Regions from separate parts of the Homo sapiens genome. Here regions 2 and 3 are each linked to region 1. The links come from fine-mapping of genetic effects on plasma protein levels. A gene starts in region 1. Each other region holds a variant in brackets. All regions are shown on one strand. Distances are between the middles of the regions.

Region 1 (5,946 bases):
CACCTAGCAGAGAAACAGAGCCTGGGAGTGACCCCATAGCAGGACCCAGGGCCGTGCTCAACACCTCTGTGGGTAAGAGGGACCAGTGAAGCTGGGGCTCAAGGCAGGGCCCCCACCTGGGACATGAGAAGAAGTGGCATCTTAGGCCGTTTCACTAGGTACTTCCCACTGGCAAAGTTTTATTGCGGAATCTTTTCGACAGCCTGGCAGGGTCCTGCTATAATTGCTGTCATCTTCCACAGAGAAAGCTGGAGCCTAGAGAGGCTGTGAGGACACAAAACCACACAGAATGAAGAATGTCACACACAGAATGATGCACAGAACACGCACACACTACACACAAACCACACACACAGTAGCAGATGGCAAAACAACAAGAAAACTACATCCCCAGCCCACATCCTCCCTGAACTCCAGACTTCCCTCTCCTGAGCATACGACTGCCTAGGGCAATGCCAAAGGAGCAAGAGCCGCAAGAATGTCCTGGACTTGGCCGGGGAAGGACCTGAGCTGGTCCTGAATGCCCTTCCTGCGGTTTCAGCTTCTCCCAGGGCTCAGGCCCCGGCCTCGCAGTCCTCTCACCTTCTGGATCTGGCCTGGTGACTGTCCTACAGAAGGTGGTTCCCAGTAGAGGCTTAGGGCTGGTATGGGAGAGGCCTTATATAGCAGGTGGCTGTAAAATCAAAAAGCACAGCTGTCTTCTGGGGTGGGACCTCTGGGTCAGACAGGCTAAGGCTTCTGGCTCTCAGACTGTGCCCTGCCCAATAGAGCTACAGGCTGCCCAACCCTTTGGCATCTGTGCAGCTCGTGCCCTCTCTGAGACCTCTAGGAATTGGGAACAACTTTGGTCAAGGCCTGCCTTTGGCAAAATGTAAACAGGAGTAAGGTATCTTCCAGCATTGTCTGTGGCCTTCTAAGTCAATTCCATGACCTGCTAATGACAAGCACCTAACAACCTGCTAACAGTCACCATGATTAGCCCATTTATAGATGAGAAAACCAAAGCACAGAAAGAGAGCCATAAGAGATATGCTCATGGGCACACAGCCGGGGCACAGTCAGAACTCAGAGCTCCGAATCAGACTATGTGGGGTCTGTGCAACTCAGGAAAGGGCCTCAGTTTCCCACAGGCAAGTGTCTTAACCTTGTTAGATTTGAGGGTCCTCCAACCAAGATGAGTGTAAACTCACTGTGCAGCCTCATAGTGTGGTAGAGGGACCATGACGTGAAGCCCCTGCCTGCAGTGTGCTCTGCACACTGGGTGAGAGCCCACAGCAGCCATCGAGAGAGTCTTTCTGGCCAAGTGATCTGAGCAGCTACTGGTAACAGCCCAGGTCAGGTCAACTGAGGCCTCTCTGTATTAGTCAGGTTCTCTGTCCTCTAGAGAAGGTGAGTTTATATATGTATGAAGGGGAGTTCATTAAGGAGTATTGACTCACATGATCACAGGGTGAAGTCCCACAATAGGCTGTCTGTGACCTGAAGACCAAGGAAGCCAGTCTGAGTCCCAAAACCTCAAAAGTGCAGCCTTCAGTCTGTGGCTGATGGCCTGAGAGCCCCTGGCAAACCACTGGTGTAGGCCCAAGAGTCCCAAAGCCGAAGAACTTGGAGTCCGATGTTTGAGGGAAGGAAGCATCCAGCATGGGAGAAAGATGGAGACTGGGAGACTCAGCCAGTCTGGTCCTTCCTCGTTCTGCTGCCTGCTTTTATCCTAGCTGTGTTGGCAGTTGATTAGATGATGTCCACCCAGATGTAGGCTGGGAGGCTAGGCCAGTCTAGCCTTTTGACATTTTTCTGCCTGCTTTATATTCTAGCAGAGCTGGCAGCTGATCAGATGGTGCCCACCCAGACTGAGGGTGGCTCTGCCTCTGCCAGTCCACGGACTCGAGTGTTAATCTCCTTTGGCAACACCCTCACAGACACATCCAGGAACAATACTTTGCAATACTTTTCAATCCAATCATGTTGACACTCAATATTAACCCTCACACTCTCCCAGTCTCCTCACACTGTGCCATGGGTGCTCCTGGTTTTGAGTGTGGACTTGAGTTATCTTCCCTCCTCATCTTTCCACTGTGCTGACACTTTATACACACACGGTGGGGAGTGGGAGGAGCCCACTCAGCCGAGGATGCAGAGGTTGAGGGGCACACATCATACCAGTATCCCCCAGCCTGCATTTAAACCTTGCAGTTCCCTGCTCTTGAAAATACCCCTTGGGGATGGCTACGCTACCTGTGTCTCAGCTCTCTCTTCCTTCCCCAAACTCATGCATTCATTCAACAAACATTTTTTGAGCACCCTCCCTGTCTTAGGCCTACTGTAGGAAACCGGGAGGTATTTGTGAGCAAAAAGACAAAGACCTTTGCCCTCCTGGAGTGTAGTCTAGAGAGGACTACAGACAACATAAATTAAAGTGGTAAATAAGCAAATCACAGGGAAAGTCAGAATGTGGTGACTGCTCTGGCAAAAAGACAAAGAGTAGGATAAGTCATCAACCATGCTAGGGGGTGAGCAGGTGCAGGCTTCCACTTTCAATGAGGAGGTTGTAGTAGGTCTCATGGAGAAGACAAAATCTGAGTTATTTTTATAAGCAGAGACTCTGGCCATCTCTTATTCTCTCCTCTCCTCACCATCTGCCTTCAGGCTGCTTATCACAGCATTTTCCTAAAAAAAAAAAAAAGCAGCTTCCTCCCTAACAGAACCATATTGTTTCCCAGCACACATTAGTCAGTCACCTGGCAGGGCACAACAAGAGAAGTGGCACAGTAATATCCAATGGGGTGTGTGTGGGCTTGCGGGTTTCAGGAATGTGGCCTCCCTGAGCCACCGATGGAGGATCCAAAGAGCTCATGAACACTGCCTCTGAGATAACAGCTCTGGTGTCAGGCTGAGTACTGGCATGAGAAAATCGGGCTGATCAATGTTAATTCCTCTCAGAAGGCACCAGATACTCAGGCAAATGGACCCAAAGCGACCACAAAGATCTGAGTCTGAATCCAGACTTTGTCCCTCACATCACATAAGTTACTTATTAACCGCACTTGTTGGGCCAGAGCTCTTTGTCTTTAAAATGGAATCATCAGGCCCTGAAGAAATGCCTCCTGATGATTTATTTACTCCTGGAATCATCACCCCATTCCTCTGTGTTTTTCCAAGGCCATCTATCTATCAATAATGTCCTGAGGACGTCTAACCATGTGGGAATTATTATTAATAGCACGTATGATTTTAACTGAGCCATTTATCAGTAAGGACACTGAAGACAATGGAAGCCCCCTGAACTAGGCTGCGCAGTCTATACGGCTGCTCACAGCAGTCCTGGGTTCATCCTTTTGAAGCCCCGGCAGTGCGCCAAGGGTACCCCCAGCTGCCTTGACAGATAAGGAAACAGGCCCAGGGAGGCCTTCCCTATAGGCCTTCAGACGCCTGGGCCAGCAATCTTTCCATTTCAACATGGCTCAGGTGGGACGCAGCCTCCACCCGCAGGATTGGAGACATCGACTTGACTCCACTCCTCCCTCTCCCAGAGGTTCACCTCTCTGTCATTAATGTGGGGTCCAAGGACCTGAATCAGTCACAGGGAATTATGAAAAAGCACCTCTCTAAAGCCGACTCCTCCTGACTAGCAAAGAAGTCCAGAGACCCAGGAGAAGCTAAGTCGCAACAAGCAGCCCAACTTTTAAACTAAGAAGCCCTGGGCACACCGTAGGCACCCTAGTTCCATCATCTTCTTAGAAGGGGACAAGGTTGGCTGTCCCTACAGCCTGCTGAGCTGAGGCAAACCTGGAGCTCAGCTGAGTCCCAGTGAGTCATCCGGTGGTAAATCTGGAACCACTTTAGGAAACGGCCTTTTCCCAAAGCTTCCCTTGATGACCAGCAAAGCTTGGAGGTGAGTTTCCAGGGGAGCCTACCCCATTTTGGAATAAGCATGTGGAGGTGTGTAGGGTCAGGTCAGGGAAGCTGGGGCAGGAATTATATCCAACAGGAGTCTAAGCCAAAGACTCAGCAAAAGGATCAAGAGCATCCACCCCTGACCCGCCTTCTCTCTGTGTTTGCTTCTGGGAGCCTTTCATTGACTAGCTCATTCCTCCCGCTTGGAGATGTGAGAATAGGCTAAAAATAATGAATTATTGCCCCCAACATTCCTGCCCCCCAGTCACCTTGCAGAGGAAATGAGCATATCCTGGAAGATAAACTTCCCCAATAGTCCATGGCCTTATGTAAGATGATGATCCCCCCGAGTCTTGGGTTTCCCATCTTTCAAGTGGCAAAAACAGCACTACGGCCTGAGTAGCTATTCTGAGGGTCAAAGGAGGTCGCACAAGCCGACAATGATGATGAAACTATCACTTCATAAAGGGCTCTAAAAACAATGGCTACTACTGCTATCATTGTTCTCTGAGCTCATATCGGCAACTGCACAGCCCAGAGGGACATTCGCATCTGCACAGGGCAATGGTCTGAGGTGAGGTCCAGCCTCAGAACACACTTCTACCACAATTAGATACTACTTCATGCCCACTAACACAAATAAAATCAAAAAGAAAGAAAGAAAAAGAGACAGAGAAAGAAAGAAAGAAAGAAAGAGAAGGAAGCAAGGAAAATTGCGAGCATTAGGAAGGATATGGAGAAATTGGAACCTTCATACACTACTGGTAGGAATGTAAAATGGTGCAGCCACTGTGGAAAGAGTTTGGCAGTTCCTCTAAGAGAGTTACCCATGACACAGCAATTCCACACCTAGGTATATACCCAATATAATTGAATGAAAACAACTGTTTATACAAAAACTTGTACATGAATAATCATAGCAGTATTATTAGACTTAATTTACGAGTATATATATATATATATGTGAAAGTTACGGGTGCAACTTTATACCATAACTTTCTTCACATCTCTCTTCCCCACTTCTGGTTTCTTTTTGCCTTTTCAAGTAAATGATTTTAAAATGGCTTCCAAATTACACAAAATTATTTTTTATAAAATGCAATTTACAGAATTATATATTAATTAGAATTTTTATTTCTAGTAATCTTAAATTTTAGTGAAAATGGGAAGCAAGAAATCTGAACTGTATGTCAGATGTTAGCATTTTATAGATAAAATTATTTCACTATTTCAGAACCATGTTTTCTCATATAATAATTATTTACATTGGAAATGACCCAGACATTCAATAAGCATTTGTTATTTAATTTAAAATAATGTTAAGATTTTACATTACACAAAAAGTCCACTTATAGGTATTTATCTCATGTATATGTATTTAATTAATTTATTTTTTAACAATTTAGATTACTCTTGAAAACCAAGGTATTATATAAAGTTAGTCATTATTTAAAGTTATTTCCCTAATAACCACAGAGGTCAATATAAAATTTATTTAGACAGAAATGTATGCTGATGACTCTAAAGACATTTTTATTATTTTACTAATAATTTTTGAAGCCAGTTTTATTTGTCAAAGATTCACATGAACTTGAAAACCATTTAGACTTAATTTGTGAGTACTTGTTTACTTATATGCCAATTTGGTAGCAAGATAGGTGAAACGAAAAGCTGGTTCTTTGAAAAGATAAATGAAATTGATAGACCACCAGTGAGACTAACCAAAAAAAGAAAAGAGGGGATCTAAATCAGCTCAATTAGAACAAAACAGGAGATATCACAACCGACACCACAGAAATACAAAAGACCATTCAAGGCTACTATGAACATCTTTACATGCATAAACTAGAAAACCTAGAGGAGATAAATAAATTCCTGGAAATATACAACCCTCCTAGATTAAACCAGAAAGAAAGAAAATATTTGAACAGACCAATAACAAGCAGAGAGATTGAAATGGTAAATTTTTTAAAAAGTTGCCAATAAAAAGAAGTCCAGGACCAGACAAACTCACAGCTAAATGCTATCAGACATTAAAAGAAGAGGTAGGCA
Region 2 (12,226 bases), 10 kb after region 1:
CAGCCGGAAGCTCGAACTGTGTGGAGCCCACCACAGCTCAAGGAGGCCTGCCTGCCTCTGTAGGCTCCACCTCTGGGGGCAGGGCACAGACAAACAAAAAGACAGCAGTAACCTCTGCAGGCTTAAATGTCCCTGTCTGACAGCTTTGAGGAGAGCAGTGGTTCTCCCAGCACACAGCTGGAGATCTGAGAACGGGCAGACTGCCTCCTCAAGTGGGTCCCTGACCCCTGACCCTTGAGCAGCCTAACTGGGAGGCACCCCTCAGTGGGGGCAGACTGACACCTCACACGGCCGGGTACTCCTCTGAGACAAAACTTCCCGAGGAACGATCAGACAGCAGCATTCACGGATCACGAAAATCCGCGGTTCTGCAGACACCGCTGCTGATACCCAGGCAAACAGGGTCTGGAGTGGACCTCTAGCAAACTCCAACAGACCTGCAGCTGAGGGTCCTGTCTGTTAGAAGGAAAACTAACAAACAGAAAGGAAATCCACACCAAAAACCCATCTGTACATCACCATCATCAAAGACCAAAAGTAGATAAAACCACAAAGATGGGGAAAAAACAGAGCAGAAAAACTGGAAACTCTAAAAAGCAGAGCACCTCTCCTCCTCCAAAGGAACGCAGTTCCTCACCAGCAATGGAACAAAGCTGGACGGAGAATGACTTTGACGAGTTGAGAGAAGAAGGCTTCAGACAATCAAATTACTCCGAGCTACAGGAGGAAATTCAAACCAAAGGCAAAGAAGTTGAAAACTTTGAAAAAAATTTAGACAAATGTATAACTAGAATAACCAATACAGAGAAGTCCTTAAAGGAGCTGATGGAGCTGAAAGCCAAGGCTTGAGAACTACGTGAAGAATGCAGAAGCCTCAGGAGCCGATGCGATCAACTGGGAGAAAGGATATCAGTGATGGAAGATGAAATGAATGAAATGAAGTGAGAAAGGAAGTTTAGAGAAAAAAGAATAAAAAGAAATGAACAAAGCCTCCAAGAAATATGGGACTATGTGAAAAGACCAAATCTACGTCTGATTAGTGTACCTGAAAGTGACGGGGAGAATGGAACCAAGTTGGAAAACACTATGCAGGTTATTATCCAGGAGAACTTCCCCAATCTAGCAAAGCAGGCCAACATTCAGATTCAGGAAATACAGAGAATGCCACAAAGATACTCCTCGAGAAGAGCAACTCCAAGACACATAATTGTCAGATTCACCAAAGTTGTAATGCAGGAAAAAATGTTAAGGGCAGCCAGAGAGAAAGGTCGGGTTACCCACAAAGGGAAGCCCATCAGACTAACAGCAGATCTCTCGGCAGAAACTCTACAAGCCAGAAGAGAGTGGGGGCCAATATACAACTTCTTAAAAAAAAGAATTTTCAACCCAGAATTTCATATCCAGCCAAACTAAGCTTCATAAGTGAAGGAGAAATAAAATACTTTACAGACAAGCAAATGCTGAGAGATTTTGTCACCACCAGGCCTGTCCTAAAAGAGCTCCTGAAGGAAGCACTAAACAAGGAAAGGCACAAACGGTACCAGCCACTGCAAAATCATGCGAAAATGTAAAGACCATCGAGATTAGGAAGAAACTGCATCAACTAACAAGCAAAATAATCAGCTAACAGCATAATGACAGGATCAAATTCACACATAACAATATTAACTTTAAATATAAATGGACTAAATGCTCCAATTAAAAGACACAGACTGGCACATTGGATAACGAGTCAAGACCCATCAGTGTGCTGTATTCAGGAAACCCATCTCATGTGCAGAGACACACATAGGCTCAAAATAAAAGGATGGAGGAAGACCTACCAAGCAAATGGAAAACAAAGAAAGGCAGGGGTTGCAATCCTAGTCTCTGATAAAACAGACTTTAAACCAACAAAGATCAAAAGAGACAAAGAAGGCCATTACATAATGGTAAAGGGATCAATTCAACAAGAAGAGCTAACTATCCTAAATATATATGCACCCAATACAGGAGCACCCAGATTCATAAAGCAAGTCCTGAGTAACCTACAAAGAGACTTAGACTCCCATACAATAATAATGGGAGACTTTAACACCCCACTGTCAACATTAGACAGATCAACGAGACAGAAAGTTAACAAGGATACCCAGGAATTGAACTCAGCTCTGCACCAACCAGACCTAATAGACATCTACAGAACTCTCCACCCCAAATCAACAGAATATACATTTTTTTCAGCACCACACCACACCTATTCCAAAATTGACCACATAGTTGGAAGTAAAGCTCTCCTCAGCAAATGTAAAAGAACAGAAATTATAACAAACTGTCTCTCAGACCACAGTGCAATCAAACTAGAACTCAGGATTAAGAAACTCACTCAAAACCGCTCAACTACATGGAAACTGAACAACCTGCTCCTGAATGACTACTGGGTACATAACGAAATGAAGGCAGAAATAAAGATGTTCTTTGAAACCAATGAGAACAAAGACACAACATACCAGAATCTCTGGGATACATTCAAAGCAGTGTGTAGAGGGAAATTTATAGCACTAAATGCCCACAAGAGAAAGCAGGAAAGATCCAAAATTGACACCTTAACATCACAATTAAAAGAACTAGAAAAGCAAGAGCAAACACATTCAAAAGCTAGCAGAAGGCAAGAAATAACTAAAATCAGAGCAGAACTGAAGGAAATAGAGATTTTAAAAAAACCCTTCAAAAAATTAATGAATCCAGGAGCTGGTTTCTTAAAAGGATCAACAAAATGGATAGACCGCTAGTGAGACTAATAAAGAAAAAAAGAGAGAAGAATCAAATAGACGCAATAAAAAATGATAAAGGGGATATCACCACCTATCCCACAGAAATACAAACTACCATCAGCGAATACTATAAACACCTCTATGCAAATAAACTAGAAAATCTAGAAGAAATGGATACATTCCTCGACACATACACTCTCCCAAGACTAAACCAGGAAGAAGTTGAATCTCTGAATAGACCAATAACAGGATCTGAAATTGTGGCAATAATCAATAGCTTACCAACCAAAAAGAGTCCAGGACCAGACGGATTCACAGCCGAATTCTACCAGAGGTACAAGGAGGAACTGGTACTATTCCTTCTGAAACTATTCCAATCAATAGAAAAAGAGGGAATCCTCTCTAACTCATTTTATGAGGCCTACATCATCCTGATACCAAAGCCGGGCAGAGACACAACCAAAAAAGAGAATTTTAGACCAATATCCTTGATGAACATTTATTCAAAAATCCTCAATAAAATACTGGCAAACCAAATCCAGCAGCACATCAAAAAGCTTATCCACCATGATAAAGTGGGTTTCATCCCTGGGATGCAAGGCTGGTTCAATATATGCAAATCAATCAATGTAATCCAGCATATAAACAGAACCAAAGACAAAAACCACATGATTATCTCAATAGATGCAGAAAAGGCCTTTGACAAAATTCACAACCTTCATGCTAAAAACTCTCAATAAATTAGGTATTGATGGGACGTATCTCAAAATAATAAGAGCTATCTATGACAAAGCCACAGCCAATATCATACTGAATGGGCAAAAACTGGAAGCATTCCCTTTGAAAACTGGCACAAGACAGGGATGCCCTCTCTCACCACTCCTATTCAACATAGTGTTGGAAGTTCTGGCCAGGGCAATTAAGCAGGACAAGGAAATAAAGTGTATTCAATTAGGAAAAGAGGAAGTCAAATTGTCCCTGTTTGCAGACGACATGATTGTATATCTAGAAAACCCCATTGTCTCAGCCCAAAATCTCCTTAAGCTCATAAGCAACTTCAGCAAAGTCTCAGGATACAAAATCAATGTACAAAAATCACAAGCATTCTTATACACCAATAACAGAAAAACAGAGAGCCAAATCATGAGTGAACTCCCATTCACAATTGCTTCAAAGAGAATAAAATACTTAGGAATCCAA[C/T]TTACAAGGAACGTGAAGGACCTCTTCAAGGACAACTACAAACCACTGCTCAATGAAATAAAAGAGGATACAAACAAATTGAAGAACATTCCTTGCTCATGGGTAGGAAGAATCAATATCGTGAAAATGGCCATACTGCCCAAGGTAATTTATAGATTCAATGCCATCCCCATCAAGCTACCAATGACTTTCTTCACAGAATTGGAAAAAACTACTTTAAAGTTCATATGGAACCAAAAAAGAGCCCACATCGCCAAGTCAATCCTAAGCCAAAAGAACAAAGCTGGAGGCATCACACTACCTGACTTCAAACTATACTACAAGGCTACAGTAACCAAAACAGCATGGTACTGGTACCAAAACAGAGAGATAGATCAATGGAACAGAACAGAGCCCTCAGAAATAACGCTGCATATCTACAACTATCTGATCTTTGACAAACCTGAGAAAAACAAGCAATGGGGAAAGGATTCCCTATTTAATAAATGGTGCTGGGAAAACTGGCTAGCCATATGTAGAAAGCTGAAATTGGATCCCTTCCTTACACCTTATACAAAAATTAATTCAAGATGGATTAAAGACTTAAACGTTAGACCTAAAACCATAAAAACCCTAGAAGAAAACCTAGGCATTACCATTCAGGACATAAGCATGGGCAAGGACTTCATGTCTAAAACAGCAAAAGCAATGGCAACAAAAGCCAAAATTGACAAACGGGATCTAATTAAACTAAAGAGCTTCTGCACAGCAAAAGAAACTACCATCAGCATGAACAGGCAACCTACAAAATGGGAGAAAATTTTCGCAACCTACTCATCTGACAAAGGGCTAATATCCAGAATCTACAATGAACTCCAACAAATTTACAAGAAAAAAAACAAACAACCCCATCAAAAAGTGGGAAAAGGATATGAACAGACACTTCTCAAAAGAAGACATTTATGCAGCCAAAAAACACATGAAAAAATGCTCATCATCACTGGCCATCAGAGAAATGCAAATCAAAACCACAATGAGATACCATCTCACACCAGTTAGAATGGCAATCATTAAAAAGTCAGGAAACAACAGGTGCTGGAGAGAATGTGGAGAAATAGGAACACTTTTACACTGTTGGTGGGACTGTAAACTAGTTCAACCATTGTGGAAGTCAGTGTGGCGATTCCTCAGGGATCTAGAACTAGAAATACCATTTGATCCAGCCATCCCATTACTGGGTATATACCCAAAGGACTATAAATCATGCTGCTATAAAGACACATGCACACGTATATTTATTGAGGCACTATTCACAATAGCAGACTTGGAACCAACCCAAATGTCCAACGATGATAGACTGGATTAAGAAAATGTGGCACATATACACCATGGAATACTATGCAGCCATAAAAAATGATGAGTTCATGTCCTTTGTAGGGACATGGATGAAACTGGAAATCATCATTCTCAGTAAACTATCGCAAGGACAAAAAACCAAACACTGCATGTTCTCACTCATAGATGGGAATTGAACAATGAGAACACATGGACACAGGAAGGGGAACATCACACTCTGGGGACTGTTGTGGGGTGGGGGGAGGGGGGAGGGATAGCATTAGGAGATATACCTAATGCTAAATGACGAGTTAATGGGTGCAGCACACCAGCATGGCACATGTGTACATATGTAACTAACCTGCACATTGTGCACATGTGCCCTAAAACTTAAAGTATAATAATAATTTAAAAAAAAAGAAAATGCAAACTAATCTACACTGACAAAAAAAAGTAAGTCAATAAATGTGATATACCACATAAACAGAATTAAAAACAAAAATCACATAATCATATCAAGAGATGCAGAAAAAGCATTTGACAAAATCCAGCATCCCTTTATGATTAATACCCTCAGGAAAATCTACATAGAAGGGGCATACCTTAAGGTTAGAAAAGCCATCTATGACAAACCCACAGACAACATTATACTGAATAGGGAAAAGTTGAAAGCATTCCCCATGAGAACTACCACAAGAGAAGGATGCTCACTCTCACCACATCTATTCAACTTAGTACTAGATATCCTAGCCAGAGGAATCAGACAAGAGAAATAAATAAAGGGCATCCAAATTGGTAAAGAAGAAGTAAACCTGTTGCTGTTTGTGGATGGTATGATTGTATACCCAGAAAGCCATATAGACTCATGCAAAAAGCTCCTAGAACTGGTAAATGAATTCAGCAAAGTTTCAGGATACAAAATGTACACAAATCATTAGCTCTGCTATACACCAACAGTGACCAAGCTGAGAATCAAATCAAGAACTCAATCCCTTTCACAATAGCTACAAAAAAATTAAATACTTAGGAATATACCTAACCAAGGACATGAAAGACCTCTACAAGGAAAACTACAAAACATTGCTGAAAGAAATCATAGATGACACAAACAAATGGAAACACATCCCATGCTCATGGATGGGTAGAATCAATGTTGTGAAAATGACCATACTGCCAAAAGCAATCCACAATTTCAACACAATTCTCATCAAAACGCCACCATCATTCTTCACAGAACTAGAAAAAACAATCCTAAAATTCATATAGGACCAAAAAAGAGCCCACATAGCCAAAGCAAGACTAAGCAAAAAGAACAAATCTGAAGGCATCACTTTACCCAACTTCAAACTATACTGTAAGGACATAGTCACCAAAACAACATGGTACTGGTATAAAAAATAAGCATATAGGCCAATGGAACAGAATAAAGAACCAAGAAATAAAGCCAAATATTTACAACCAACTGATCTTTGACAAAGCAAACAAAAACATAAAGTGGGGAAAGGACACCTTATCCAACAAATAGTGCTGGGATAATTGACAAGCCACATATAGAAGAATGAGACTAGATCCTCATCTCTCATCTTATACAAAAATCAACTCAAGATGGATCAAGGACTTACATCTAAGACCTGAAACCATAAAGATTCTAGAAGATAACATCAGAAAAACCCTTCTAGACATTGGCTTAGGCAAAGACTTCATGACCAAGAACCCAAAAGCAAATGCAACAAAAACAACGATAAATAGATGGGACTTAATTAAACTAAAAAGCTTCTGCACAGACAAAGAAATAATCAGCAGCGTTAATGACAACCCACAGAGTGGGAGAAAATTTTCACAATCTATACATCCGACTAAGGACTAATATCCAGAATCTGCAATGAACTCAAACAAATCAGCAAGGAAACCACAAACAATTCCATCAAAAAGTGGGCTAAGGACACAAATAGACAATTCCCAACAGAAGATATACAAATGGCCAACAAACGTATCAAAAAATGCTCAACATCGCTAATGATCAGGGAAATGCAAATCAAAACCACAAGGCAACACCACTTTACTCCTGCAAGAATGGCCATAATCAAAAAATTAAAAACTAATAGATGTTGATGGAGATGCGCTGAACAGGGAAGACTTCTACACTGCTGGTGGGGATGTAAACTAGTACAACCACTATGGAAAACAGTGTGGAGATTCCTTAAAGAGCTAAAAGTACAACTACCACCTGATCCAGCAATCCCACTACTTTCCCAGAGGAAAGGAAGTTATTTATTATTTATTATTATACAAAAAAGATTATTATTATTTGTTATGCAAAAAAGATACTTGCAGACATATGTTTATAACAGCACAATTTACAATTGCAAAAATGTGGAACCAACCAAAATGCGCATCAACCAACAAGTGCATAAATAACCTGATAAATACATATATGATGGAATACTACTCAGCCTTAAAGCAAATAAATTAATAGCATTTGCAGCGACCTGAATGAGATTAGAGACTATTATTCTAAGTGAAGTAACTCAGGTATGGAAAACCAAACATTGTATGTTCTCACTCATAAGTGGGGGCTAAGCTATGAGAATGCAAAGGCATGGGAATGACACAGTGGACTTTGGGGACTCAGGGAAAGGGTGGAAAGGGGTGAGGGATAAAAGACTACAAATTGGATGCAGTGTGCACTGCTCAGGTGACAGGTGCGCCAAAATCTCACAAATCACCACTAAAGAATGTACTCATGTGGCTGGGTGTGGTGGCTCACGCCTGTAATCCCAGCACTTTGGGAGGCTGAAGAGGGCAGATCACCTGAGGTCAGGAGTTCAAGACCAGCCTTACCAACAAGGAGAAACCCCGTCTCTACTAAAAGTACAAAAAAATTAGCCGGGCACGGTGGCCCATGCTTGTAATCCCAGCCACTCGGGAGGCTGAGGCAGGAGAATCGCTTGAACCCAGGAGGCAGAGGTTGTGGTGAGCCGAGATCGAGCCATTGCACTCCAGTCTGGGCAACAAAAGTGAAACTCTGTCTCAAAAAAATAAAATAAAAAAGAATGTACTCATGTAACCAAATACCACCTGTTCCCCAATAACCCATGGAAATCAAAATTTTATATATATATATATATATATATATATATATATATATATATATACACATATATATATATATACATATATATATATATACATATAATAGGTAACAGTTGTTTTATCATGATTAAATTGGTATCAAATTAATAGGTATAAGTGAAAAAACTAATCACTTACTAGTCATAAAAAAATGCAATAATATCATGCACTATGTATTACCAAGAAAGTAACTCAGATAAGCAGCAGATGATGAGAAGAGTATCCTGAAAATTCTGGATATATCCTTATGTATATCCTTAAAAATCACTTACTTCCCTTTATGTAATTTTGATTTTAATTTAAATGTCATGTATTTTCAGCTAACATTTAAATTAGTCTTTTGTTGTAAAACTTCAGTTGTTATAAATCATGAAACATTTTCAGAAACTTGCTTGGTGGTAGAAATAATTCTTTCCTTCTATTATATAATTATATCACATTAAATATTTATAAAATTATGTTTGAGAAATATATTCTGACCTTGAACATAATCAAATTCAAGATCAACATTATAATAGAATGAAGATTTATGGGGAAATGTTGCAATCAGTAAAATCTTTAAAGACCAGGTAATAGTAAAGAAGATACCCGTCTGAAATATTGCAGAGTGGTAGATATCACATTTTATCAAAGGACAGTAACGTTTGATCTTCTGTTTCCCACAGAACTCTGGATCCGGTTAACAGCAGGTAGGGAGAAGCAGCGGCAATATTTCAAATGTCCCTATTTGATCTGAGCAGGTAGAAAAAAATTGCATTCTACTTCAGGTAGTCTGTGAAATTAAGGTTCAGTTATTTTTCAAGATTGGGAGGACATCACAGTGTTGATTTTTTTTTTTTTTTTTTTTTTTTTTGAGATGGAGTCTCGCTCTGTCACCCAGGCTGGAGTGCAGTGGCACGATCTTGGCTCACTGCAAGCTCCATCTCCTGGGTTCACGCCATTCTACTGCCTCAGCCTCCCGAGTAGCTGGGACTACAGGCATCCAGCGCCACGCCCGGCCAATTTTTTGTATTTTTTTAGTAGAGACAGGGTTTCACCGTGTTAGCCAGGATGGTCTCGATCTCCTGACCTCTTGATCTGCCTGCCTCAGCCTCCCAAAGTGCTGGGATTACAGGTGTGAGCCACTGCACGTGGCCCGCAGTGTTGATTTTGTGTACAAAGTAGGATCTGTTCCAGTATACTCTAGTGAGATAATTCACACATAGAGAACAGTTAATTCTGACCTCATGAAAAAATTGCCCATATTTTGAGTAGGTTAGCTTGTCACCTTCTTTGCAAACCATGTGGTCATTTTCAATGTCTAATAAATCTTTAACCCTACAGCCTCTCTGGTTCCCAACTCATTGCAGATAGTATCCTCTACCATTAGGTAATTAGCTTTGTTGGCTGTCGGTATGTTATAAATACTCTCAGCAGATCGCTTTGGATGTATTTGGTAGATGTTTTCATTTCTCTTGAGAAGATCATCATTGTAAAGAGGCAAACTTGTCACCAGCCTTCCAGTGCATAACTTCATCGCACCCATTAACTGTGGACTCCCTGCAAACACAGTTGCAGCTGGAACTGGCCTTTTTATCCATGTCATAAGTTCCACTGTACCTGGGTCGTAGAATTCCTGTCACTCCGTTAATTGTGCCATTAATCTTGGAAAAAAGCTCTTTCTATAAACTGAGACCTACTATAGTAGGCACAGCCATGCTCAGGGAGAGACAACCACATTGGGTATACAGTTCTTAATCAGCACCACTTGAAAAGTGTCGTTCAAAGTTCAGAAGAACGTACACCAAATCCTGCTAACGTGCACACATAAGGAATCCAGATGTACTTCAAGCCTTCTATAACCATCACAAGAGAACCCAATAAAATAGTGTGAATTATGAAATAATTTCTCCAATAATGTCACCAATTCGTTCATCTTCAAGAGTAACAGCTTCTTTCAGGGATTTACCATTAATCCTCCTAAAAATAACTTGCAACATAGGAACAAAATAAATAATTAACACTAAAATATAAAAGGGTAATAAAGAAGACTGTGTCAATCACACACACACACAAAATCCTGAGATGGCCCCTGTAGAGATTCTTGACAGAGGAGCCAATTCATTGTAAAATTCTTAGCCATATTTGGTCCAAACTTAACTTCAAGGAATTTCAGCATGAGCCCGTTTTCTCTGTTTAGGACAAACATCTTCATTATAACATACAATGTCACTGTTAGAGTACACACCAAGTAAAAATTAATCACTTTCATTATTTTAGCTACAAAGTTTCCTTTCTTTAGATTCAGCAAAGGCACTTAGCAAGCATTGAGACTGCTACCAAACTTAATAAACAAGATACCAATAAAGGTTGATTCTCTAGCTGCAGTAAATATCCCAGGAAGAGAGAAAATACATAGATTTTATAAACTTCATAAACCTCATCACTTTGCTCCAGTGAAAAGATATCTAGCAGGAACAGAGTTATGGCTTGAAGAAACGGGAGAGTGGCTGTACTCCCCATCATCATAAATGTGTAAATTGAAGCACTCATCAGCAAGTAGCAAAACCTCTCTCCATAAGTATTTAAGTTGCTTTCTCATAGCCTGTAAGTCCAGTAACTTGGCATGCAAAATATGGTAGTGCCCAGTTTTCTCTTAAAGGAATGGAGTATTCAATTCTTGTATTATATCTACCCTGTTAATAATGACCCACGCAACAGTAAGCATTCCTGCTAGCCACGTTCCATTCATAAGCCAACTTGTAACAAACAAAGCAATAACATATATTCCTTACACTCCAAAAACAATGCCAATATAGAAATACTCCACCTCAATAATCTCATTGCTACCAGTGGCTTGATATAAAACGCTGGCAATAGGTTCTGGATATAGAAACATTTGCTACACTGCATTTATGCTATTCAGAGATACAGTTTTGTTATTGTGTGTCAGTTCATAAACACCTCTTTCAAATGAAGGCGCCTTTAACACATCTTTATGAGTAATAAATGCCACTGTCACCCTGAAATGTGATTTCCCGGTCAAGCTCCTGCCTGTTGGAAAACCAGAATTTCTGTTCGTGGTATACAGATAAGTAGAGATCATACATCATACCACCAGTAACTGCTGCAAGACAGCCAGTGAAAATCTTTGCAAAGCCTTGAAATCATACATGTCTTGGAGTTCCTTCAGAAACTGGAATGTCACTGATTTTCTCTTCTTTGGCAGATTCCTTATTTTCTGAAGATTTTGGCATTTTTCTTTAATGCAGCTCTACAATTGGTCCTTATTCATCTGCCTTTGTCCCCTCAGGGCGTGGGGCACCCCTCCAACTCCCTCCCGGCCTGGAGTTATCCTGCCTCCACCTGGCGGAACCCCCCAACCCTGGCCCACTCGTAGCCATCACGCCCCCACTATCTGACCTGCCCAATTCAAGGTATATTTTTGATGAAAAATGTTATAAATAAAGTAATTTTTTTTGAGACAGAGTTTCACTCTGTCACCCAGGCTGGAGGGCAGTGGTGTGATCTCAGCTCACTGCAACCTCTGCCTCCAGGGTTCAAGCGATTCTCCTGCCTCAGCCTACTGAGTAGCCGGGACTACAGGTGTGTGCCACCACGCCTGAGTAATTTTTGTATTTTTAATAGAGATGGGGTTTCACCATGTTTGCCAGCCTGTCTTGAACTCCTGACCTCAGGTGATCCGCCCACCTCACCCTCCCAAAGTGCTGGGCTTACAGGTGTCAGCCATCGCGCCCGGCCAAAAATAACTTTATATGGAAAGAAAATCTTGTATGGTAATTTCTTGCCCTAAAGTAAAATAGCTGATTGTTTAGGAAAGAGAAACGTAA
Region 3 (12,226 bases), 45 kb after region 1:
GTCTCAAAAAAACAAAACAAAAAATAGCTTAGGTAGGTCAGCATCTTACTCCTCCAGCCCCTTGAGTGAGGTTGCCTCATTAAACGTTTAGATTACTTTGTCACAGTGTTCATTTCTTCTTGTGATTCTCCCCACCTCATAAATGATTTTTTAAATTTCACATACATTAAGGTAATTCTTTGTGCTCTAAAACTCTATAGAATTTGACAAATACTTAACGTTTTGTATTCACCATTATATTATCACACAGAAGTTTCACTGCCCTATAAATTTTCCTGTGCCTCACCTATTTAACCTTCACTTCCTTCCCCAGAACCTCTGGCATCTACTAATGTGTTTAAGGTCTTTTAAGTTTTATCTTTCCCAGAATGTCATATAATTGGAAGCATATATTATACAGTTTTTTTTCTGGCTGGCTTCTTTCACTTCATAATATGCATTTAAGATTCTTTTATTTTCATAATTTGATATCTCATTTCTTTTTATTGATAAGAAGCTATTCCATTGTATGGATGCAACACAGTTTGGTTATCCGTTCACCTATTAAAAGACATCTTCCTTGCTCCCAGTTGTGGGTGATTATGAATCAATCTGTTACAAATATTTGCATGCAGGTTTTTGAGTGGACATACATTTTCAAATCAGTTGGGTAAGAATTTAGGAACGTGATTGCTGGATTACATGGTAAGATTATGTTTAGTTTTGCAAGAAAGTGTCAAATTATCTCCCAAAGTGGTTGTACCATTTTACATTCCCACTACCTGTGAATGTGAGTTTATTTCGCTCTGCAAACTTTCCAGCAGTCAGTATTATCAGTTATTTGCATTTTGAATATTCTAATAAGTGTGTAGCGGCATCTCACTGCCGTTTTAATTTCCAATCCCCTACTGACATATCATGTTGAGCACCGTTTCATATTTTTATTTTCCATCTGTATATCTTTTTTTAAGGTGTCTGTTCAAATCTTTTGCCCACTTTTGAACTGGGTTGTTTTCTTGTTGAGCTGTAAGAACTCTCTGTACATTTTAAATACAAGTTCTTTGTATATTTTGATATTATCAGATGTCTATTGTTCAAATTTTTCTCACAATTTGTGGTTTATCTTTCCTTCCTTTGAACCATGTCTTTAGCAGATCAGAGGTTTTCAATTTTAGCAAGTCCAACTTGTTAATTTTTTATTCCATGGATAGTGCCATTGAAAAACACATCATCAAACCCAAAGTCATGCAGATTTTCTCCTATTTTTTTTCAAGTAGCTTTATAGTTTGGCATTTTATGTGTATGTCTATTTTCAGCTAACTTTTGTATAAAGTGTAATGTCTCTGTCTAGGTTCATTTTTTTGCATACAGTTGTTCAATTTATCCAGCACTTTTTACTGAAGGCGGCTATCTTCTCTCCATTAAATTGTCTTTGCCCTGTCATCAAAGTTCAGTTGACTATATTTATGTGGATCTATTTCTCTTCTCTATATTCTGTTTCACTGATCTGTGTGACTATCTTCAATTGATAATATGCTGTCTTGATTACTATAGCTGTATAATAAGATTTGAAATTGGGTAGTGTCGTTCCTCCAAATTTGTTCTTCTTCTTTAATATTGTGTTGGCTACTCTAGATCTTCTGCCTTCTCATATAAAGTTTAGAATTAGTTTGTTGCTATCTACAATAACCTTCTGGGATTTTGATTGGGACTGCATTGAAAAAAGCCAGGGAAAATCTGTATTCCATTTTAAAAATTATTTTTAATTATGGTAAAATACACATTACACCAAATTTACCATCTTAGCTATTCTTAAGTGTTCAGTAAGTGGTGTTAAGTATATTCTCATTTAGCACGCAACCAAACCACAGAACGTTTTTATTTTGCGAAATTGAAATTTTATACCCACTAAACAAGACTTTCCCATTTCACCTTTTTCCCCTGGTAACTATCATTCTACTTTCTGCCTCTATGAATTTGTCTTCTAGGTATCTCATGTAAGTTGAATCATACAATATTTGTCTTTTGTGACTGGCACATTTCACTTAGCATAACTTCCTCAAGTTAGTCATTGACTTCTTATGTTAGTCTTGTATCCCATGACCTTGCAATGCTAACTTACTTCCATAAATTGGTTTGTTTTGTTTGTCAATTCTTTGAGATGTTCTACATAGAAAATTGTATCTTCTGCAAATAGAGTTTAATTTTTTCCTTTCTAACCTGTAACTTTTTTCTCGTTCTTGTGTTATTGCACTACCTAAGATTTCCAATACAGTGTTGAATAGGAGTGGTAATAGAGGACAACCCTGCTTTGTTTCCAAGCTCAGAAGAGCATGCCATTTTCATCATTCTGTGTGATGTTAGTTAGCTGTATGTTTTCTGTAGCAATTCTATGTTAAAGAAGTTTTACTAATTCATAATTTGCTGAGAATTTTTATCATAAATGGGTGTTTGATTTTGTCAAACTTTTTTTCTGAATCAATATAATCATATGGCTTTTCTTCTTTAGTCTGCTGATGTGCTAAATTATATTGCTCAGTTTAGAAACCTGAATCAGTCAGCCGGGCGCGGTGGCTCACGCCTGTAATCCCAGCACTTTGGGAGGCTGAGGCGGGCAGATCACCTGAGGTCAGGAGTTCAAGACCAGCCTCAACATGGAGAAACCCCATCTCTACTAAAAATACAGAATTAGCCGGGCTTGGTGGTGCATGCCTGTAATCCCAGCTACTCGGGAGGCTGAGGCAGGAGAATTGCTTGAACCTGGGAGGCAGAGGTTGCGGTGAGACGAGATCGTGCCATTGCACTCCAGCCTGGGCAACAAGAGCGAGACTCTGTCTCAAGAAAAGAAAGAAAGAAAGTTAAATCAGTCTTACATACCTGAAATAAATTCCACTTGGTCATGGTATAAAATGTTTTTACACACTGTTTGCTTTGATTTGCTAATATTTTGTTGATAATTTTTACATTTATGCTCATGAAAAATACTGGTCCATTGTTTTCCTTTCTTTGGTGTCTTTATCTGATTTTGACTAGGATAATGCGGGCCTCATAGAATGTGCTAGGAAGTGTTCCACTGCTTCTATGTTATGGAAGAAATTGTGGAAAACTAGTATCAGTTATTCCTTCAATGTTTGATATAATTTACCAGTGAAACCACCTGGACCTGATGTTTTCTTTTTTGGAAGGTTAATAATTAATGATTTAATTTATTTAATATATAGAACTGTTCAGCTGATCTATTTCTTCTCTGTGAATTTCGGCAATTTGTATTTTTCAAGGAATCAGTCCTTTCATCAAAATCATCCAATTTGTGAGCATGGATTTATTCATATTATCTTTTTATTATCATTCTAATGTCCAAGGGATGATTAACATTCTTTCATTTATAAAATTGATAATTTGTCTCCTCTCTGTTTTTCTTGGTTAGCCTGAATCATTAATTTTACCAGTCTTTTCAAAGAATCAGCTTTCGATTTTATTAATTTTTCTCTATTGTTTCTTGTCTTCAAATTCATTCATTTCTGCTCTAATTTTTATTATCCCTTTTCTTCTGCTTCCTTCAGGCTTAATTTGTTTGTCTTTCTCTAGTGTGCTAAGGTGGAACGCTGGGTTATTGATTTTAGCTCATTTTCTTTTCTAATGTAGACATGTTACTAAAACTTTCCCACTATGCACTCTTGCTGCACCCCACACATTTTGACAAGTGGCATTTTCATTTTCATTTGTCCTAAATATATAAAAACTTTTCTTTACACTTCTTGATTCCTTATTTAGAACAGTTTTTGTTTCATTTCCGAATATACTGTAATTTTCCAGCTTTCAGTTATTGATTTCTGGTTTAATCCCACTACGGTCAGAAAACATACTTTGTATGATTTCTATTAATTTTGTCAAGATACTATTTTTATTATGGTAAAAAAAAAGTGGATAACACAAAATTTACCATCTTAAGCATTTTTAAGCTTACCATTCTGGGTTTTTTTTGTTTTTTGGGTTGGTTTGTTTTTGTTTTTGAGACAGGGTCTTGCTCTGTTATCCAAGCTGTAGTGAAGTGGCATGATCTCGGCTCACTGCAACCTCCACCTCCCAAGTTCAAGCGATTCTCCTGTCTCAGCCTCCTGAGTAGCTGGGATTACAGGCATGCGCCACCATGCCTGGCTAATTTTTATATCTTTAGTAGAGACGGGGTTTCACCATGTTGGTCAGGCTGGTCTCGAACTCCTGACCTCGTGATCCGCCCGCCTCAGCCTCCCAAAGTGCTGGGATTACAGGCGTGAACCACCGCACCCAGTTACCATTCAGTTTTGCTAACAATATTTACATTGCTATGCAACCAATCTACAAAAGAAGTTTTTATCTTGTAGAACTGGAAATTTTTACCCATTAAACAACACCCCATTTTCCTCTCCCCAGATTCTCTAGTTACCACTGTTCTACTTTCTGCTTTTGTAAGTTTGACTATTCTAGATACCTTATGTAAGTGTAATCATACAGTATTTGTTCTTTTGCGACTGGCTTGTTTCACTTAGCAAAATGTCCTCAAGGATAGTCTATGTTGTAGCATATGTCAGAATTTCCTTCCTTTTTAACGTTAAATAATATTCAATTGTATATAACGTATTTTGTTTGTCCATTTATCTGTCAATTGACATTTGGGTTGCTTTTACCTCTTAACTATTGTGAATAATACTGCTTCAATATGGGTGTGCAAATATTTCAAGAGTCTGTTCTCACATTGCTATAAAGAAATACCTGAGACTGGGTCATTTATAAAGAAAAGAGTTTTAATTGGCTCGTAGTTCTGCAGGCTATACAGGAAGCATAGTGGTTTCTGCTTCTGCGGAGGCCTCAGGAAGCATCCAATCATGGCAGAAGGCAATGGGGGAGCAAGGCCAGGTGACTTGCTTTGGCCAGTGAAAGGTGAGTGAAGGGACAAGTCTTGGGACCCCTGTGCACTGTTTGCCACATCCCTTCCACCTGCCGGAAAGATGAGGTTCTCAAACTCCAGGGTACACTAGAATCACTCTAGGGGTTTGTTGAAAGCTGCTGGGGTCCACTCCCAGCATTTCTAATGCAGTATTGCTGTGGGCAGAGGAGTGGAGGTAGGGGGCTGAGAATTTGCATGTCTAACAAGTTTCTGGTGATGTTTATATTGTTGATCTAGAGAACACATTTTAGGAACTAGAGTCATAGAAGGATCCTCCCTGGGCCAGGGTCTCTGAGTGATACCTTCCTATTGAACCATGTTTAAGATGAAGGTTGGGTGGGGAATAAACATTTTTCTGTTCCCATTTCACTGTGGGATTTTGATGTTTATAGGTGAAAGAACATATCCCACACAGAAGCATAAATCTCTCACAACCAGCAGGACCTCGAGAAAGAAACACCATTTTGATTAGAGGGGCTTTAGTTTTCCCTGGGCTCCAGGTACACAAATCCACACGGAATTAATGGTGCAGAGCTGTAGAGAGGCTCTCAGCCATGTCCTAAGGCACATTCTCCTCAGTCCTCTCCCACCTGGTACATAGGATACCTACTTCCAGGGGGAAATCCAAGATTTCCTGGGAAGACAACTCCTTTCCCCTGTGCCTTCCACGGGTCCTGCCTATAGCTTGAGTTCACTCACAGAATCTGGTTTCCTATTGTTGGATATCAAACACTGTTGGAGCCAACAGAGGGTGGGACCTGTCTGAAACAAGACTCATCAGTGATCTTCCTGATCAGAGCCATAAACCTCTGGCCGGCAGTCAGCTGAAGGATTCAGGCAGCACTGGGAACAGCCACTTCACCTAGGAACTTGGAGATAGGTCAAGATAAGGAGGGCTGTAAATCTAACTCGGGCTCAGCTAGAGTCCTGGCACGTATGAGTATCATTTGTGCTACCAGCCCGGTCACCTACGAGGCATTCCTCTTCTTGTCTCTGATGTCCCGGTCACCTACGAGGCTTTCCTCTTCTCATCTCTGATGTCCCGGTCACCTACGAGGCTTTCCTCTTCTCATCTCTGATGTCCCGGTCACCTACGATGCTTTCCTCTTCTTGTCTCTGATGTCCCGGTCACCTACGAGGCTCTCCTCTTCTCATCTCTGATGTCCCGGTCACCTACGAGGCCTTCCTCTTCTTGTCTCTGATGTCCCGGTCACCTACGAGGCTCTCCTCTTCTCATCTCTGATGTCCCGGTCACCTACGAGGCCTTCCTCTTCTTGTCTCTGATGTCCCGGTCACCTACGAGGCTCTCCTCTTCTCATCTCTGATGTCCCGGTCACCTACGAGGCTTTCCTCTTCTCATCTCTGATGTCCCGGTCACCTACGAGGCTTTCCTCTTCTCATCTCTGATGTCCCGGTCACCTACGAGGCTTTCCTCTTCTTATCTCTGATGTCCCGGTCACCTACGATGCTTTCCTCTTCTTGTCTCTGATGTCCCAGTCACCTACGAGGCTTTCCTCTTCTCATCTCTGATGTCCCGGTCACCTACGAGGCCTTCCTCTTCTTATCTCTGATGTCCCGGTCACCTACGAGGCTTTCCTCTTCTTGTCTCTGATGTCCCGGTCACCTACGAGGCTTTCCTCTTCTCATCTCTGATGTCCCAGTCACCTACGAGGCCTTCCTCTTCTCGTCTCTGATGTCCCGGTCACCTACGAGGCTTTCCTCTTCTCATCTCTGATGTCCTGGTCACCTACGAGGCTTTCCTCTTCTCGTCTCTGATGTCCTGGTCACCTACGAGGCCTTCCTCTTCTCGTCTCTGATGTCCCGGTCACCTACGAGGCTTTCCTCTTCTTGTCTCTGATGTCCTGGTCACCTACGAGGCCTTCCTCTTCTTGTCTCTGATGTCCCGGTCACCTACAAGGCCTTCCTCTTCTTATCTCTGATGTCCCAGTCACCTACGAGGTTTTCCTCTTCTCATCTCTGATGTCCCAGTCACCTATGAGGCTTTCCTCTTCTCGTCTCTGATGTCCCTCCCTCCAGCGTGTATTTTCACGTCTCTCCTCGTCTCTGCTGCTTCACTTTTGTCACTTTCTCCAAGTCTTTTGGGTTTGTCTAGCTGCAGATGTTTTCTCTCATCCTCATCATTTATGCTTCCAGATCAGTTTTCCTGTCATTCTTATTCAGCTTTTATCTCTGTCACATTCTCTCTGAAAGTGTCGTTAAATATATATACATATGTATGTATATACATTTTTTTTTTTGAGACGGAGTCTCACTCTGTCACCCAGGCTGGAGTGCAGTGGCGCGATCTCAGCTCACTGCAAGCTCCGCCTCCCAGGTTCACGCCATTCTCCTCCCTCAGCCTCCTGAGTAGCTGGGGCTACAGGTGGACGCCACCAAGCCCGGCTAATTTCTTGTATTTTAGTGGAGAAGGGGTTTCGCCATGTTGCCCAGGCTGGTTGCCAACTCCTGAGCTCAGGTAATCCGCCCGCCTCAGCCTCCCAAAGTGCTGGGATTACAGGCGTGAGCCACCGTGCCCGGCCCTAAATATATTTTTAACCAACCCAGAAAAAATTAAAAAGTATATCCCAGGTGGCAGGTGAACTAAATACCTGGTTCACTTTATTTAACCTCGGGTTTGTTTTTGTTAGTGTTATGAAGACGTAGCTCCCCTCCTCCTAAGGCCTCATGCCCTTTTCTGTTAACAGTCCCTTCCAATGGGGCAGCCATGGTCACTATTGCCAGATGCAACTGTTTGAGGGAATGGAGAGGATTGTAATCTGAGGCTTCTGAAATTGTAAAGTGAAAGAGGAGATCTGGTAAAAGGGGCGAAGATCAGCTGAAGGAAGGTCAGATGTGAGTACAGCAGCAAC[G/A]GTTACATTCCCACCCTGGGCTGCAGAGGCAGGTGGGCTGCAGAGGCAGGTGGGCTCCTGGCCTCTCTCTCCAAGTGGAGTGGGAGGCTGAAACCATAGCAACACTGAGGTTAGCACACAAGGCAGGTGACATTAAGCAACATCCTCTCCTTCTTCCCTAAACCACAGCAGCCCCTGCGAACCTGTACAGCTCCATGAGCCTCCTCCAGCCTTCACTGCTGCCCCAGGCCCCCAGGCCCTTAAGAATTCCTGCTGGAAAAAAGCAGGCCGTGGCACAACTGAGATTTCCTTGTGTCAGTGTGAAGATGATCCAGCTCTTCTGCATGTTATTGCAGAAATCATAGAGACGAAACAGGATGGGGTGGCCTGGAAGGAGCATGGAAGATGAAGCCGCAGCTGAGGAAGAAGGCAGCTCTGCTGCTCCACTCTACCCTAGACCAAGAAGGTTCCTCTTTTCTAAATGGGGAAGAAACTCATTTTGACACTCCCTTCCTCCTATGTTTGAATAAATCAAGAAGCGTATCTGCACTGTGCAGTGAAAGCCACCTGCCTGCCTGGAGAAAGAGAAACTACTGCCCAGCACTCTGAGCTCTTCGACCTCTGGACGATGATCATCTCACACCCAAGCAGAAATATCCAGCAGCCCTCTGCTCCCTCCGGGCTGGGTCCTAACCAACTCTGGACTTGCTCAGGTTTCTCATGCTCCAACCCCTAACCCTGTCTGCAAACACATGCACCATTTCACATCATCCATCAGAACTCTTCGCATGGCCCAGCCTCCACTGCCAGCTGTATAATTTTAGTGCTTTAGATAACCTTAGAGGTTATCTACTGAGTCTGTCCACACTTCCGGCAGATTGGAACACTGAGGCCCAGAGGAGCTGAGTGAATTGTCCCTGTGCACATAACCCCTTGTGGCAGGGGCAGGCCAAGGGCAACCCTCTCTGAATAGTGTGGTCAGTGTTTTTAACACCGAAGCTCTCAAAAGAACTAATGTTTACTGAGCACCTAGAATGAGGGTGACCATATGTCCTAGATCACCCAAGTCAGTCCCAGGCCACACCTGCCCCCTTTCACACTCAGCTGTCCCAATTTAGACTATGCATCACGTATGGTCCCTGTACATATGTCTATTGTGTTATGTGTTGAGTGAGATGGAGTCAAGGATGATACTGACCCCTTCTTCTGAGGACTTAGGACCAACAAGAGACATGTCTACAACAACCGGCCCATTCTTCAGTAAGTCAAAAGAGCCATGGGGAACTTGAGAGTGATAAGGATTAATTCAGACTGGGCTAGAGAGGTGCCTGTGGTTGAATCCCAGCTCATGTGGACTTTTGACCACATGATCTGGTCCTCAAACCACAGGCAGCAGTTTGACAGTTTGAGAAGGGAGGAAACTTGTGCCAAGGGTAGCACAAGCAGAAGTAAGTCAGTAGACAGCTGTTTGGTGAAAATTTCCACATTCCAGGTCCTGAGAACACCAAGATGGGTGAGACACAGGCCCTGGGAGCTCAAGACAGATTTGGGAAGAGTGAGGATTGGGAGCCAGGCACCACTTCTCCAGTCTGAGACCAAGGGGCTGGTTCAGAGCTTCGGAGAGCAATGCCCAGCTGTAACCTCCCAGATTTTTCCTTGACTGCAGCCCTCATTAGTTATTTATTTACTTATTTTTAGAAATAGGTTGTCCCTCTGTCACCCATTCTGAAATAGTGGTGTGATCATAGCTCACTGCAGCCTCAAACTCCTGGGCTCAGGAGATCCTCCCACTAGCCTCAGGAGTAGCTAGGACTACAGGTGCATGCCATCACGCATTGCTAATTTTTTTACTTTTTGTAGAGTCGGGTTCTCACTATGATGCTGAGGCTGGCCTCAAACTTGGTCCTCAAGTGAGCCTCCCACCTTGGCCTTCCAAAGCATTGGGATTACAGCTGTGAGCCATTGCTCCTGGCCTGGTTATGTATTTTTCACTGCCCTGCACCACCTGTGCACACCTGCATTCCTTACCTGGAAGACCCACCCATGGCATTACAGTTTATAGTGTTCCTAACAAGGCCTACCACAGTGTTTGTACACTGAAAGATCCTGGTGAACATTTCTTAGTAAACTACACATATCCATTTGCCAGCCAGTGTATGGTCTCCTGGTTCCCTTATCCCAGGGCATGAGCAATGTGTTGCAGCCTGGGGCTCAGGAATGGTGAGCAGGCGTGGGTGGAGAAATTTATAAAGAGGCTGTGGAAAGGGAGAGGGAAAAGACACTAGGGAGGCCAAGGAAGGAGGTGAGCTCTGAGGAGAACAGGGTACATCTACATATCGAACATCTTACCTCCTGAGACCAGCTGCGCTGCAGACTTGAGCCAGCTCTCACACGCAATAGGTGATTCCGAGGACACACGGGAATGCAAGAGGCCCATGACAAGTACAAATAGGGTTCCATTCTGATGTATACACACCCCCACCCTTCTATGTGCAGTTTTTCAGGCCCTTCTGCAAAGTGCCCATGAGGCTGACCACGCAGGCTTGGAGGGTCAACACGCAGTGCGCGCAGGGAAATGCAGAGCCCAGGCTCTGCGCACTTTCTGGTAGCTGCTGCCCCCTGCTGACACAGCAAGACCTTGACAGCCCAAGAAGGTCATCTCCGCTCTTCCTGCCAGGCAGAGTAGGAGCATCTACAGATGGGTTGATTCCACACCCCACAAATACGTACAATTACAATATGTCAATTTTAAAAGATGTCTAAAGGCTGGAAGCATAACCAGGCATGGTGGCTCATGCCTGTAATCCCAGCAATTTGGGAGGCCGAGGTAGGGGGATCGTTTGAGCCCAGGAGTTTAAGACCACCCTGGGCAACACAGGGAAACCCCGCCTCCAAAATAATCCAAAAATTAGCTGGGCATGGTGGGACACACCTGTAGTCCCAGCTACTTGGTAGGCTGAGGTGGGAGGATCTCTTGAGCCGAGAAGGTCGAGGTTGCAGTGAGCCAAGATCACATCACTGCACTCCAGCCTGGGCTAGAACGAGTGTCACAAAAACAAACAAAAAAAAAGGCAAAGAGCAGTGGTTCAAGCCTGTAATCCCAGCACTTTAGGTCAAGGAGGGAGGACTGCTTAAGTCCAAGAGTTCAAAACCATTTTGGGCAACACTGCAATACATCTCTACAGAGAAAAAAAAAATTAAGTTAAAAATTAGCGGGGTATGGTGGTGTGCATCTGTGGTCGTAGCTACTAGGGAAGCTGAGACAGAAAGATTGCTCGAGCCCAGGAGTCCCACGCCGCAGTGAGTTATGATTGCACCACTGCACTCCAGTCTGAGCAACAGCGCAAAACCCTGTCTCATAATAAAATAAATATTAAAAATTAAATTTTTAAAAAGGCAGTGGGGTTGTCATGCTTGTCAAAAATCATATCCAGATGAGGAGGGAAACACAACCCTTTCATAGAGTCCACTTGCCTAGCGCAAGATGGGATGAAGCCTCCGTGAGTTAAGCACTCCGAGGCTGTGAAGAGGTGCTAACAGGAATCGCTGCACCTCAGATCCACTGATGTAGCAGCATGCCACACATGCCTCTATGCTCCCATTTTATAGGCGATAAAATTGAAGCGTCATGAAATTTGAGAATTCCCATAGAGATGTGATCCTGGGATTGTGCATCACCAGGTCCTGACCTCCAAACTGCTGTACTGATAAACCCACCTGATACAGCTGTGGGCTAAGAGAAGGGGCAAGAAGCAAAAGCACATTTCCTGAGCATCTGTTGGTGAGAGCCTGTGTCAGGTGTTGGGTAGACTGAGGCCCCAGCCCCACACTTGAGGAAGATGAAGATCAGAACAATTCATTACCAACAGGCCAATGTAACATGTAACATGACACAGTACAGGAATGGGGGATGGGGCCCTATGTCCCCCACACCTTGACCATCTCTTCCTCACCTTAAACAAAATTTCTCGACCCTCTTTGCTGGGAGAAGGAGCTAAGAAACAGTATTCCCACTTCTCATCTCTTCTTCCCAGCAAAACTTCCTCGGAGATGACTACCTCCACTTCCTCACCTCCTGTTCCTGTGAGCCCAGTGGTTCAAGCGTTTGGACTCTAGAGTCCAAGTGCCTAGTGGGAGCCGCCTCCGTTACCTTCAGCAAGGCTGAGTACCCCCCATTGTGCCTTATTTTCTTACCGTGGAAAGGAAATCATAGTGTTTATCTGTCCTATAACATTGTTGTAGAGATTAATTAGGGGCGTTCCTGGTACGTGAAATGCACTGGATGAGTACAAGTTACTACAACGAGGGTGGGAGGGAGGGAGCTCTTCGGCTTCTGTCTTCTTCTCCTTAGAAGTACCATTGGCTCTAACCTTCCTGGTCTCTCTTCCCGCCTGCCGCATCTTCTAGGTGATTTTGCAAGGAGAAACGCACGTGCATGGCATAGCCCTTCTTTTCTAGGGCTCTTCTGTAC

Which allele goes with the higher level. Positions count from the first base shown, and alleles are read on the strand shown. Strength reflects both the effect of a copy and how common the allele is.
For the plasma level of the protein whose gene starts at base 637 in region 1, T is the high allele of the variant in region 2 and C is the other (strong association).
For the plasma level of the protein whose gene starts at base 637 in region 1, allele G in region 3 goes with a lower level than allele A (moderate association).

Evidence for each region. A credible set is the group of variants that fine-mapping cannot tell apart. PIP is the chance, under the fine-mapping model, that this variant and not a neighbour inherited with it causes the effect. The UK Biobank Pharma Proteomics Project read protein levels with antibody pairs (Olink). The fine-mapping took linkage between variants from a reference panel, not from the people measured, so its PIPs are less certain.
Region 2: its variant is the best candidate, but not a certain one, in a credible set for the plasma level of the LYPD8 protein (UK Biobank, PIP 0.88).
Region 3: its variant is the best candidate, but not a certain one, in a credible set for the plasma level of the LYPD8 protein (UK Biobank, PIP 0.78).

Annotation. Positions count from the first base shown.
Region 1 is chr1:248,755,123-248,761,068 of GRCh38, forward strand. LYPD8 (LY6/PLAUR domain containing 8) reads right to left here and starts at 637. Exons shown (of 7, transcript NM_001085474.2): 1 at 583-637; 2 at 117-264.
Region 2 is chr1:248,762,115-248,774,340 of GRCh38, forward strand. It overlaps the pseudogene DPY19L4P1. Among named protein-coding and RNA genes, the nearest start is that of LYPD8, 12 kb to the left of the region's middle. The variant C/T (reference allele first, on the strand shown) is at 3,951.
Region 3 is chr1:248,796,945-248,809,170 of GRCh38, forward strand. LOC124904577 (a long non-coding RNA gene) reads right to left here and starts at 10,574. Exons shown (of 2, transcript XR_007067008.1): 1 at 10,105-10,574; 2 at 1,844-2,810. RefSeq lists enhancers at 5,701-6,900, 8,309-8,518. The variant G/A (reference allele first, on the strand shown) is at 7,777.